3 linked regions of the Homo sapiens genome follow. The protein of the gene in region 1 interacts with the protein of each later gene in a pairwise test. Each region holds a gene or a part of one and is shown in the gene's direction. Other genes may lie near its edges. The genes, in order: YAF2, SETBP1 and GABPB1.

The links.
Region 2: the proteins of YAF2 (region 1) and SETBP1 interact in binary tests that used the Homo sapiens proteins (3 or more experiments, as listed by UniProt).
Region 3: the proteins of YAF2 (region 1) and GABPB1 interact in a two-hybrid assay, tested with the Homo sapiens proteins (one study listed by BioGRID).

Annotation. Positions count from the first base shown.
Region 1 is NC_000012.12:42,228,198-42,231,851, reverse strand, and holds part of YAF2 (YY1-associated factor 2), read left to right. Parts: exon of another isoform or gene 1-630; intron 631-3,654. UniProt on the Homo sapiens protein: Binds to MYC and inhibits MYC-mediated transactivation. Also binds to MYCN and enhances MYCN-dependent transcriptional activation. Increases calpain 2-mediated proteolysis of YY1 in vitro.
Region 2 is NC_000018.10:44,949,888-44,953,541, forward strand, and holds part of SETBP1 (SET-binding protein), read left to right. Parts: coding exon 1-3,453; intron 3,454-3,654.
Region 3 is NC_000015.10:50,303,105-50,306,758, reverse strand, and holds part of GABPB1 (GA-binding protein subunit beta-1 isoform beta 2), read left to right. Parts: intron 1-2,625; coding exon 2,626-2,793; intron 2,794-3,635; coding exon 3,636-3,654.

The DNA of each region.
Region 1 (3,654 bases):
TACTATATGTTGCCAGTGATAATCATTCAAGTGAAAATTAGAATTTTTGAAAATTTGTAGCAACAATGAGCTTTAGAGTTTCTGTGTATAAAGACTTTTCTGAGAAGATTAGTGGTGGTATCAATGAATATAATTTCTGATATTTCACCATGAAATGTGTCAGCATTTGGAAGCTACGCATAACTCAGCAAACAAATGGTTCCTAGTTACCGATGTATGATTTTACAAAACTGTAATGGGTAATCCATCAAAGTACAAAATACCAACAGATTTTAAGGGAACACTGAAAACTTCATTGATGTGGTTTCAGATTTCATATTGCAACTAACCTTTGAGAAACAACTGTGTTTTTATGTAGTATCAAAGAATAACACCTATAGTTATCTGAAAATGCTATTCAACTACTTACCTCTTTTCAACTGTATATCTGTGAGAGTCCAGATTTTCTTAATATTTTTGGACCAAAACAACATATTGCAACAAATTGAATGCTGAGATAGATGTGACAATCCAGGTGTCTTCTACTAACCAGATGTTAGAGGTTTGCAAAAATATACGATGCCACTCTTCATACAAAATATCTTTGTTTTGGAAAATAATAAGTTTTTAAAATAAAAATATGTCATTTAATATGTGATGTATTTATTTTTTAAATGAACTAATATATTTAGATTTTTATCAGTTTTTATTTCTAATATAGTAAACATTGATAGATGACCCACATTAAGAAAAACAAAAAACAAAAACTCTTAAATTTTAAGAGTGTAAATGATCCTAAGACCAAAAAGTTTGTGAACTGCTGGTCTAGAGTTTATTGGCTTGGGTTTCTACATGCAATGGCTTTACTTCAGCAGGTATTCTTTTTATTTCCTTTATAGTGTGAGGCCTGATAACTAATATCCTAGTTGTTTAACTCAGTGGCCCAATCTCACTCATCTGTTGATGTCGCCTCCAAAGTATTTGATGTTCTTGGCCCTTTTTAAATTGAAACTCTACTTCCTTCATGTCTCTAAGACTCCTTTTTCATAGATTTCTGTGTATATCTCTGAAACCCATTTCTGCCTCCCCAAACTTGGCATCTGTATATTCTTTACTTTGTATGTGGCATAAACTCCTTTCTGGAACCTCAGCTAGAAACTGTCATTGTCTCAGCTTTGATTCTAATTTGTAGTCCTCCTTCATGTCCTTTCTCTGGATTGTCTCTTAAATCTATCCTTTTTCCTTTTATGTAGTTACAGTTCAGAAGCCCATATCACTTCTGTCATGAACTATTGGACAAATTGGTCTCTCCTTTGGAATGCTACTAACATGATCTTCATTATCTTTTTTGAAACCTATGTGATTATGTTGGTCCCTGTATATTTAAAAAAAAAATTGAGTCCTATTAGTGGCTGCTGAATAAAGGCTGAGATCCTTAGGATAGTGTTCAAGGCCATAATAATAATCTATCCCTAAACTACCTTCCTAGCTTCATTTCCTGCTGCTTATCCCAATCCTGTGCTGTGTCAGCACTGAATTATTTTTATCATATGGTACTTTTTCTTTCTCTTTCTTTCTTTCTTCTCTTTCTTCTCTTTCTTCTCTTTCTTTTCTTTCTTGAAGGAGTCTTGCTCTGTCGCCAGGCTGGAGTGCAGTAGCGCGATCTTGGCTCACTGCAATCTCCGCCTCCCAGATTTGAGCGATTCTCCTGCCTCAGCCTCCTGAGTAGCTGGGATTACAGACGTGTGCCACCATACCTAGCTAATTTTTTTATTTTTAGTAGAGACAGGGTTTCACCATGTTGGCCAGGATGGTCTCCATCTCCTGACCTCGTGATCCGCCTGCCTCAGCCTCCCAAAATGCTGTGATTGCAGGCGTAAGCCACCATATGGTACTTTTCAAAGAAGCCCTCTAGGATTACCATCCCTCCACCCCTTGGTATCATATTGATTCTATGTATGTAGAGTCAGTCATGCACTCCATAATGACATTTTTGGTGAGTGGGGGACCACATATACAGTCCCATAAAATGATACTATATTTTTACTCTACTTTTTCTATGTTTAGATACAAATACTTACCATGGTGTTACAATTACCTGCAACATTCAGTATAGTAACATCCTGTACACCTGTAGCTTCAGAGCAATAGGCTCTACCATATAGCCTAGGTATGTAGTAGGCTGTACCATCTAGGTTTGTATAAATACATTCTATGATGTTCTGACAATGAAATCACCTAACGATGCATTTTTCAGAACATATCCGTCATTAAATGATGCATGGCTGTATGTATATGTAATTATTCCTGGAGAATAAATATATTGTAGTATAATTGTCTAGACACTTATCTGCCCTACAGGGCAGAGACCGTCTTATTCACTTTGGTATTCCCAGAAGCTAATAAAATACCTGAAGTATTGTAGATATTTAAATGTTTTTTTTTTTTTTTAATTTATTTTTTTATTGATAATTCTTGGGTGTTTCTCACAGAGGGGGATTTGGCAGGGTCATGGGACAATAGTGGAGGGAAGGTCAGCAGATAAACAAGTGAACAAAGGTCTCTGGTTTTCCTAGGCAGAGGACCCTGCGGCCTTCCGCAGTGTTTGTGTCCCTGATTACTTGAGATTAGGGATTGGTGATGACTCTTAACGAGCATGCTGCCTTCAAGCATCTGTTTAACAAAGCACATCTTGCACCGCCCTTAATCCATTTAACCCTGAGTGGACACAGCACATGTTTCAGAGAGCACAGGGTTGGGGGTAAGGTCACAGATCAACAGGATCCCAAGGCAGAGGAATTTTTCTTAGTGCAGAACAAAATGAAAAGTCTCCCATGTCTACTTCTTTCTACACAGACACGGCAACCATCCGATTTCTCAATCTTTTCCCCACCTTTCCCGCCTTTCTATTCCACAAAGCCGCCATTGTCATCATGGCCCGTTCTCAATGAGCTGTTGGGCACACCTCCCAGACGGGGTGGTGGCCGGGCAGAGGGGCTCCTCACTTCCCAGTAGGGGTGGCCGGGCAGAGGCGCCCCTCACCTCCCGGACGGGGCGGCTGGCCGGGCGGGGGGCTGACCCCCCAACCTCCCTCCCGGACGGGGCGGCTGGCCGGGCAGAGGGGCTCCTCACTTCCCAGTAGGGGCGGCCGGGCAGAGGCGCCCCTCACCTCCCGGACGGGGCGGCTGGCCGGGCAGGGGGGCTGACCCCCCCCCCACCTCCCTCCCGGACGGGGCGGCTGGCCGGGCGGGGGGCTGACACCCCCACCTCCCTCCCTGACGGGGCGGCTGGCCGGGCAGAGGGGCTCCTCACTTCCCAGTAGGGGCGGCCGGGCAGAGGCACCCCTCACCTCCCGGACGGGGCGGCTGGCCAGGCGGGGGGGCTGACCCCCCCCCCCCACCTCCCTCCCGGACGGGGCGGCTGGCCAGGCGGGGGGCTGACCCCCCCACCTCCCTCCCGGACGGGGCGGCTGGCCGGGCAGAGAGGCTCCTCACTTCCCAGTAGGGGCGGCCGGGCAGAGGCGCCCCTCACCTCCCGGATGGGGTGGCTGGCCGGGCAGGGGGGCTGACCCCCCCCCACCTCCCTCCCGGACGGGGCGGCTGGCGCGGGCGGGGGGCCGACACCCCCACCTCCCTCCAGGACGGGGCGGCTGGCCGGGCGGGGGGCCGACCCCCC
Region 2 (3,654 bases), on another chromosome or scaffold:
AGAGGCCCCAGAAACATTCAACTCTCCATTATGACACGGGCCTCCCACAGGACTTCACCGGTGACACCTTAAAACCAAAGCACCAGCAAAAAAGCAGCAGCCAGAACCACATGGACTGGTCCACCAACTCTGACAGCGGACCCGTCACTCAGAATTGCTTCATCAGTCCAGAGTCTGGCAGAGAAACTGCAAGCACCAGCAAGATCCCCGCTCTTGAGCCCGTGGCTTCCTTTGCAAAGGCCCAGGGTAAGAAAGGCAGTGCAGGGAACACGTGGAGTCAGTTGTCTAACAATAACAAAGATCTGCTCTTGGGAGGTGTGGCTCCATCCCCAAGCAGCCACAGCTCACCAGCCCCACCCAGCAGCTCTGCTGAGTGCAACGGGCTTCAGCCCTTGGTGGATCAAGATGGAGGAGGTACAAAGGAGCCCCCAGAACCACCTACGGTGGGCAGCAAGAAAAAGTCCAGTAAAAAAGATGTGATAAGTCAGACCATACCAAACCCAGACCTGGATTGGGTCAAGAATGCCCAGAAAGCATTTGACAATACAGAAGGGAAAAGGGAAGGTTATTCCGCAGATAGTGCCCAAGAGGCATCACCAGCCAGGCAGAACGTGAGTTCTGCCAGTAATCCTGAAAATGACTCAAGTCATGTCCGGATTACTATCCCCATCAAGGCACCCTCTCTGGATCCAACCAACCATAAGAGGAAAAAAAGACAGTCCATTAAAGCGGTGGTGGAAAAGATCATGCCAGAGAAAGCCTTGGCTTCTGGAATCACCATGAGCAGTGAAGTAGTTAACAGGATACTTTCCAACTCTGAGGGGAATAAGAAGGATCCCCGTGTCCCTAAGTTGAGTAAAATGATAGAGAATGAGTCCCCCTCAGTTGGCCTTGAAACTGGTGGAAATGCTGAGAAAGTTATCCCAGGAGGTGTGTCTAAGCCGCGGAAGCCACCCATGGTCATGACACCTCCAACGTGCACAGATCACTCTCCATCCAGAAAGCTGCCAGAAATCCAGCATCCAAAATTTGCTGCAAAACGAAGGTGGACTTGCAGCAAACCAAAACCTAGCACCATGCTTCGAGAGGCAGTTATGGCCACCTCTGATAAACTGATGCTGGAGCCCCCGTCTGCATATCCCATCACCCCATCCAGCCCTCTCTACACCAACACAGACAGTCTTACTGTGATCACTCCAGTCAAAAAGAAGCGGGGACGACCAAAGAAGCAGCCTTTGCTCACAGTCGAGACGATTCATGAGGGAACTTCCACCAGCCCCGTCAGTCCCATCAGCCGAGAGTTTCCTGGCACTAAGAAAAGAAAGCGACGACGCAATTTAGCGAAGTTGGCCCAGCTAGTGCCGGGAGAGGACAAACCCATGAGCGAGATGAAATTTCACAAGAAAGTTGGAAAGCTCGGCGTGTTGGATAAGAAGACCATCAAAACTATCAATAAGATGAAGACACTCAAGAGGAAAAACATCTTGAATCAGATCTTGTCCTGTTCCAGCAGCGTTGCTCTGAAGGCAAAAGCTCCCCCAGAGACCAGCCCTGGGGCAGCAGCCATTGAAAGCAAACTGGGCAAGCAGATTAATGTCAGCAAGAGGGGAACCATCTACATTGGCAAGAAGCGGGGCAGGAAGCCAAGAGCAGAGCTGCCACCCCCATCCGAAGAACCCAAAACAGCCATCAAGCACCCCAGGCCTGTTTCTAGCCAGCCGGATGTTCCAGCCGTGCCTTCCAACTTTCAGTCACTTGTGGCGTCTTCACCAGCAGCTATGCACCCACTTTCAACACAGTTAGGTGGGTCCAATGGCAACCTGAGCCCTGCCAGCACTGAAACCAATTTTTCAGAGTTGAAAACTATGCCAAATCTCCAGCCCATCAGTGCTCTTCCAACCAAAACCCAAAAGGGAATACACAGTGGAACCTGGAAGCTGTCTCCACCCAGACTGATGGCCAACTCCCCTTCACACCTGTGCGAGATTGGCTCCCTAAAGGAAATCACGCTGTCCCCTGTGAGCGAGTCCCACAGTGAGGAGACGATCCCCAGCGACAGCGGCATTGGGACAGACAACAACAGCACTTCTGACCAAGCGGAGAAGAGCTCAGAATCCCGAAGGAGGTACTCTTTTGATTTCTGCTCCCTGGACAACCCGGAGGCCATTCCGTCCGACACCAGCACAAAGAACCGGCATGGCCACCGGCAAAAGCATCTCATTGTGGACAACTTTCTGGCCCACGAAAGCCTCAAGAAGCCAAAGCACAAGAGGAAACGGAAAAGCCTGCAAAACCGCGATGACCTCCAGTTTCTGGCAGACCTGGAGGAGCTAATCACCAAGTTCCAAGTGTTCAGAATCTCCCACCGGAGTTACACCTTCTACCACGAGAATCCATATCCCAGCATTTTTCGGATTAATTTTGATCACTATTACCCGGTGCCATATATCCAGTATGACCCGTTGCTCTATCTTCGTAGGACTTCAGACTTGAAGTCAAAGAAGAAGCGTGGTAGGCCTGCAAAAACCAATGACACCATGACAAAGGTGCCTTTTTTACAAGGGTTCAGCTACCCTATTCCCAGTGGAAGTTACTATGCACCCTATGGAATGCCTTACACATCAATGCCTATGATGAACCTTGGTTATTACGGTCAGTACCCAGCTCCTTTGTACCTATCGCACACGCTTGGAGCAGCTTCCCCATTCATGAGGCCAACAGTGCCACCACCTCAGTTCCACACAAACTCCCACGTAAAGATGTCCGGTGCAGCTAAGCATAAAGCCAAGCATGGAGTACACCTGCAGGGACCTGTTAGCATGGGCCTTGGTGACATGCAGCCTTCTCTGAACCCTCCCAAGGTAGGCAGTGCCAGTCTGTCCAGTGGTCGGCTCCATAAGAGGAAACACAAACACAAGCATAAGCACAAGGAAGACCGGATCCTAGGGACCCATGACAACCTGAGTGGTCTTTTTGCAGGCAAAGCCACAGGCTTCTCCAGCCACATCCTGAGCGAGCGGCTGAGTAGCGCAGACAAAGAGCTCCCGCTGGTGAGTGAGAAGAACAAGCATAAGGAGAAACAGAAGCACCAGCACAGCGAAGCCGGCCACAAAGCTTCTAAGAACAACTTTGAGGTGGACACCCTGTCTACACTGTCACTTTCCGACGCCCAGCATTGGACACAGGCCAAGGAAAAAGGAGACTTGAGCAGTGAGCCTGTGGACTCATGCACGAAAAGATACTCTGGCAGTGGCGGGGATGGTGGCAGCACGAGATCAGAGAACCTGGACGTGTTCAGTGAAATGAACCCTTCGAATGACAAGTGGGACAGTGACGTGAGTGGGAGTAAAAGGAGGAGCTATGAAGGCTTTGGAACGTACAGGGAAAAGGACATCCAAGCCTTCAAGATGAACCGCAAGGAGAGAAGTTCTTATGACTCCTCCATGTCTCCAGGTAAGGCTGTTTTTCTTCAGAAATGGATTATCAAGTTATTTCATTGCTGGGCTTTGCACCTCAGACACATCTGTGGCACATTGTGTTCACTAGTTTGCAAAGAGGTGGGAATCAAATTAAAATGGGTCTCCTTGCACATTTGAGTTTGCTGCACATTTTGTACATTGTTTACTTGGTATTTACTATCTTCCTTCTCTCCTG
Region 3 (3,654 bases), on another chromosome or scaffold:
TAGGGATAAGTGATACAAAGAAAACTAAGTAATGCTTGTCACAAAATTCAAAATATTAGTTACCTCTGGGGCTGGGGGAGGGGCTTGTGATCAGGGAGTGGCATGTGGGAAGATTTTTTTTTTTTTTTTTTTGAGACAGAGTTTCGCTCTGTTGCCCAGGCTGGAGTGCAGTGGCATGATCTTGGCTCACTGAAGCCTCTGCCTCCCGGGTTCAAGTGATTCTCCTGCCTCAGGCACCGAAGTAGCTGGGATAACAGGCGCCCACCCTCACACCCAGCTAATTTTTTATTTTTAGTAGATGAGGTTTCACCATGTTGGCCAGGCTGGTCTCGAACTCCTGACCTCAGGCAATCCACCTGCCTTGGCCACCCAAAGTGTTGGGATTACAGGCGTGAGCCACTGCGCCTGGCCAGATTTTAAATTACTGGCAGTGTTTTATTTCTAGACTATGGTGTTGATTCACAGGTGTTTGCCTTAAACTACATATATTGGCTGAGCACAGTGGCTTACGCTTGTAATCCCAGCACTTTGGGAGACTGAGGTGGCAGATTATTTGAGGCCAGAAGTTCAAGACCAGCATGGGCAACATAGACCCCATCTCAAACAAAAAGAAAAAAATTAGTCAGGCATGGTGGCTCAGCCTGTAGTCCTAGCTACTCTGGAGGCTGAGATGGGAGGATTGCTTGAGCCTAGGAGTTAGAGGTTACAGTGAGCTACGATAGCTCCACTGCATTCTAGCCTGGGCGACAGAGCAAGAAGCTGACTCTAAAAAAATGAATAAAAAAAAACCCAAAAAGCTACAAAAACTACATGGCCAGGTGTGGTGGCTCATATCCATAATCCCAGCACTTCGGGAGGCTGAGGGAGGAGGATCGCTTGAGCTCAGAAGTTTGAAGGTACAGTGAGCTGTGATCACCCCATTGGACTCCAGCCTGAGTGACAGAGTGAGACCCTGTCTCAGAAAAAAACAAAAAACCCTGCATATATGTATATATATTTTGTGTCAATAACCAAGAAGGGAAAGTCTCAGAAGACAAAAATAAAAAAGTAGATCCTAATGTCAAACTGAGCAAAGCTCCTGGTTGCTAAATGGGCTGTTGAGATATTTTCATTAAATACTGAAATTTAAGAGTATAGAAAAGGCTAGTTAAAGAAAAATTGACAAAGCATGGAGAAAGAAAGGATTGTTTAAGGATCTTCTTTGATCTGCTGGGATGACCTTCTCTTAAAAATGTAAGGTTTAGCTGGGTTTGTTGGTGTGTGCCTGTAGTCCCAGCTACTCTGGAGGCTGAGGTGGACAGATTGCTTGAGCCCAGCAGTTCAAAGCTGTAGTGTGTGATAATTGTACCTATGAATATCCATTGCACCCCAGCCTGGGCAACACAGTGAGGCCCTGTCTCTAATTAAACAAACAACAATTAAACAAACAAACAAACAAAAAATATATCTATCTCTCTATCTATAGATAGATAGATAGAGAGATAGGACTAAGGACCTTTATACATATATCTCACTTAATCTCTTCATAACATAATAAACTGTTTATATGTGTAAATTTCCTTAGTCCAAATATCTTAGTTCTTTGGAATATCAAGTGATGTGGTAATCAGAGGGTTATAGGGATTTTCTGTGCCTTTAAATGCATGTGATAGAACTTAATCTTCCTTCCCTCACATTTTAGTACTCCCTCTGTGTATTGTGGATGTCAATTTAATGACTAGACCACATGGAACCAATTTCAGGAGAATTGGGCTCTGTTTTGGTTTTGTCCTGATTCAACTTTGGCAAATGCACCTAAGATTTTTCCTTTGAAAAAAATCCCTTTAAAAAGATCACTGAGATGTTTCAATACGTGAATTTTTTAAGACCTACAAAACAATTTTGATCCACTTAAAGTAAAAATGTACACTGTTACATTTATTTGAGATGAATTTTACAGACGAAGTTAACTTAGCAAGTTTTGTGTGATTGGTATGAGGAATACATTCTAATACACAGAAAAATTTCTCAAACTCTATCTCTGATTTCTTTTTTTTTTTTTTTTCTTTAGACCAAAATCTCGCTGTGTCACCCAGGCTGGAGTGCAGTGGCGCGATCTCGGCTCACTGCAACCTCTGCCTCCTGGGTTCAAGCGATTCTCCTGCCTTAGCCTCCTGAGTAGCTGGGATTACAGGCACATGCCACCACGCCTGGCTAATTTCTGTATTTTTAGTAGAGATGGGGTTTCACCATGTTGGCCAGGGTGGTCTTGAATTCCTGACCTCAAGTGATCCACCCGCCTTGGCTTCCCAAAGTGCTGGGATTACAGGCGTGAGCCACCACGTTCGGCCTCTATATCTTAATTTCTAATGAAATTAATTTTGTTCAGGCAGTTTATCTGATAAAAAATAATGAAGAAAGAAAGTTTGAATTAAAGGAAATACTGGATTTTCTTCTTCATTGAGAGTGTTTGGGAATTCTTCAAGATGTCTATGAAGAGGATGTGATAAGCATGAATCTAGGCATTTCTTTTGAGTTTTGAGTTGCTATGTAAACAGATAATGTAAAGAAAATCTGTTTACTATATAAACAGAAGTGTAGTAACAATAATGTAAATGTGGATTTTTTTTTTTTTCTGTGGTACAGCTGGGAACTTCTCCACTTCATCTAGCAGCACAGTATGGTCATTATTCCACCACAGAGGTACTGCTGCGAGCTGGTGTGAGCAGAGATGCCAGAACCAAAGTGGACCGAACACCATTACATATGGCAGCTTCTGAGGGCCATGCCAGCATAGTAGAGGTTTTACTTAAGGTATGTGTTCTCTTTTTGCACTTTGCTTTTAAAATACTTTACGGTTTTATAAGAAGGAGAGGGAACTAGTTTTTGTTAAATGCCTACTTAGTATTTTATCTATAGTATTTCATTTTTTGTGTGTATAAGCCCATTAAATGAAAATTGTCTTATAGCTTTCATTTCATGAGGGACAAAACTTCATTTAGGTATATTCTTAGTTAAATCAGCTAATTGATTTCTTGGACCTTGGTCTATCTTATGATGAGGGACTACAGCATTTTTTCTTTTTGTTTTTTTTTTTTTTTTGAGACAGAATCTCTGTCACCCAGGCTGCAGTGCAGTGGCACGATCTCAGCTCACTGCAACCTCCACCTCCTGGGTTCAAGTGATTCTCCTGCCTCAGCCTCCCGAGTAGCTGGGACTACAGGCGCCCACCACCATGCCCAGCTAATTTTTGTATTTTTAGTAGAGATGGGGTTTCACCATATTGGCTTGACTGGTCTCGAACTCCTGACCTTGTGATCCGCCTGCCTTGGGCTCCCAAAGTGCTGGGATTACAGGTGTGAGCCACCATGTCCGGCCCTTAATTTTTTGTATTGTAGAGATGGGGTTTTGCCATATTGCCCAGGCTAGTTTCAAACCCCTGAGCTCAGCTGATCCAACCGCCTCGGCCTCCCAAAGTGCTGGGATTACAGGCGTGAGCCACTGCACCTGGCCTGGAACATCTATTTAACATATACATATAAATAATTGACTACATTATTTGTTCTTGCTTTAAAGCACAGAACTAATAATTTCATATCAGGAATTTTTTATGTGATATTTCATATTTTAGTAAACTCTTTGAAATATTTTTGTAGCATGGTGCTGATGTCAATG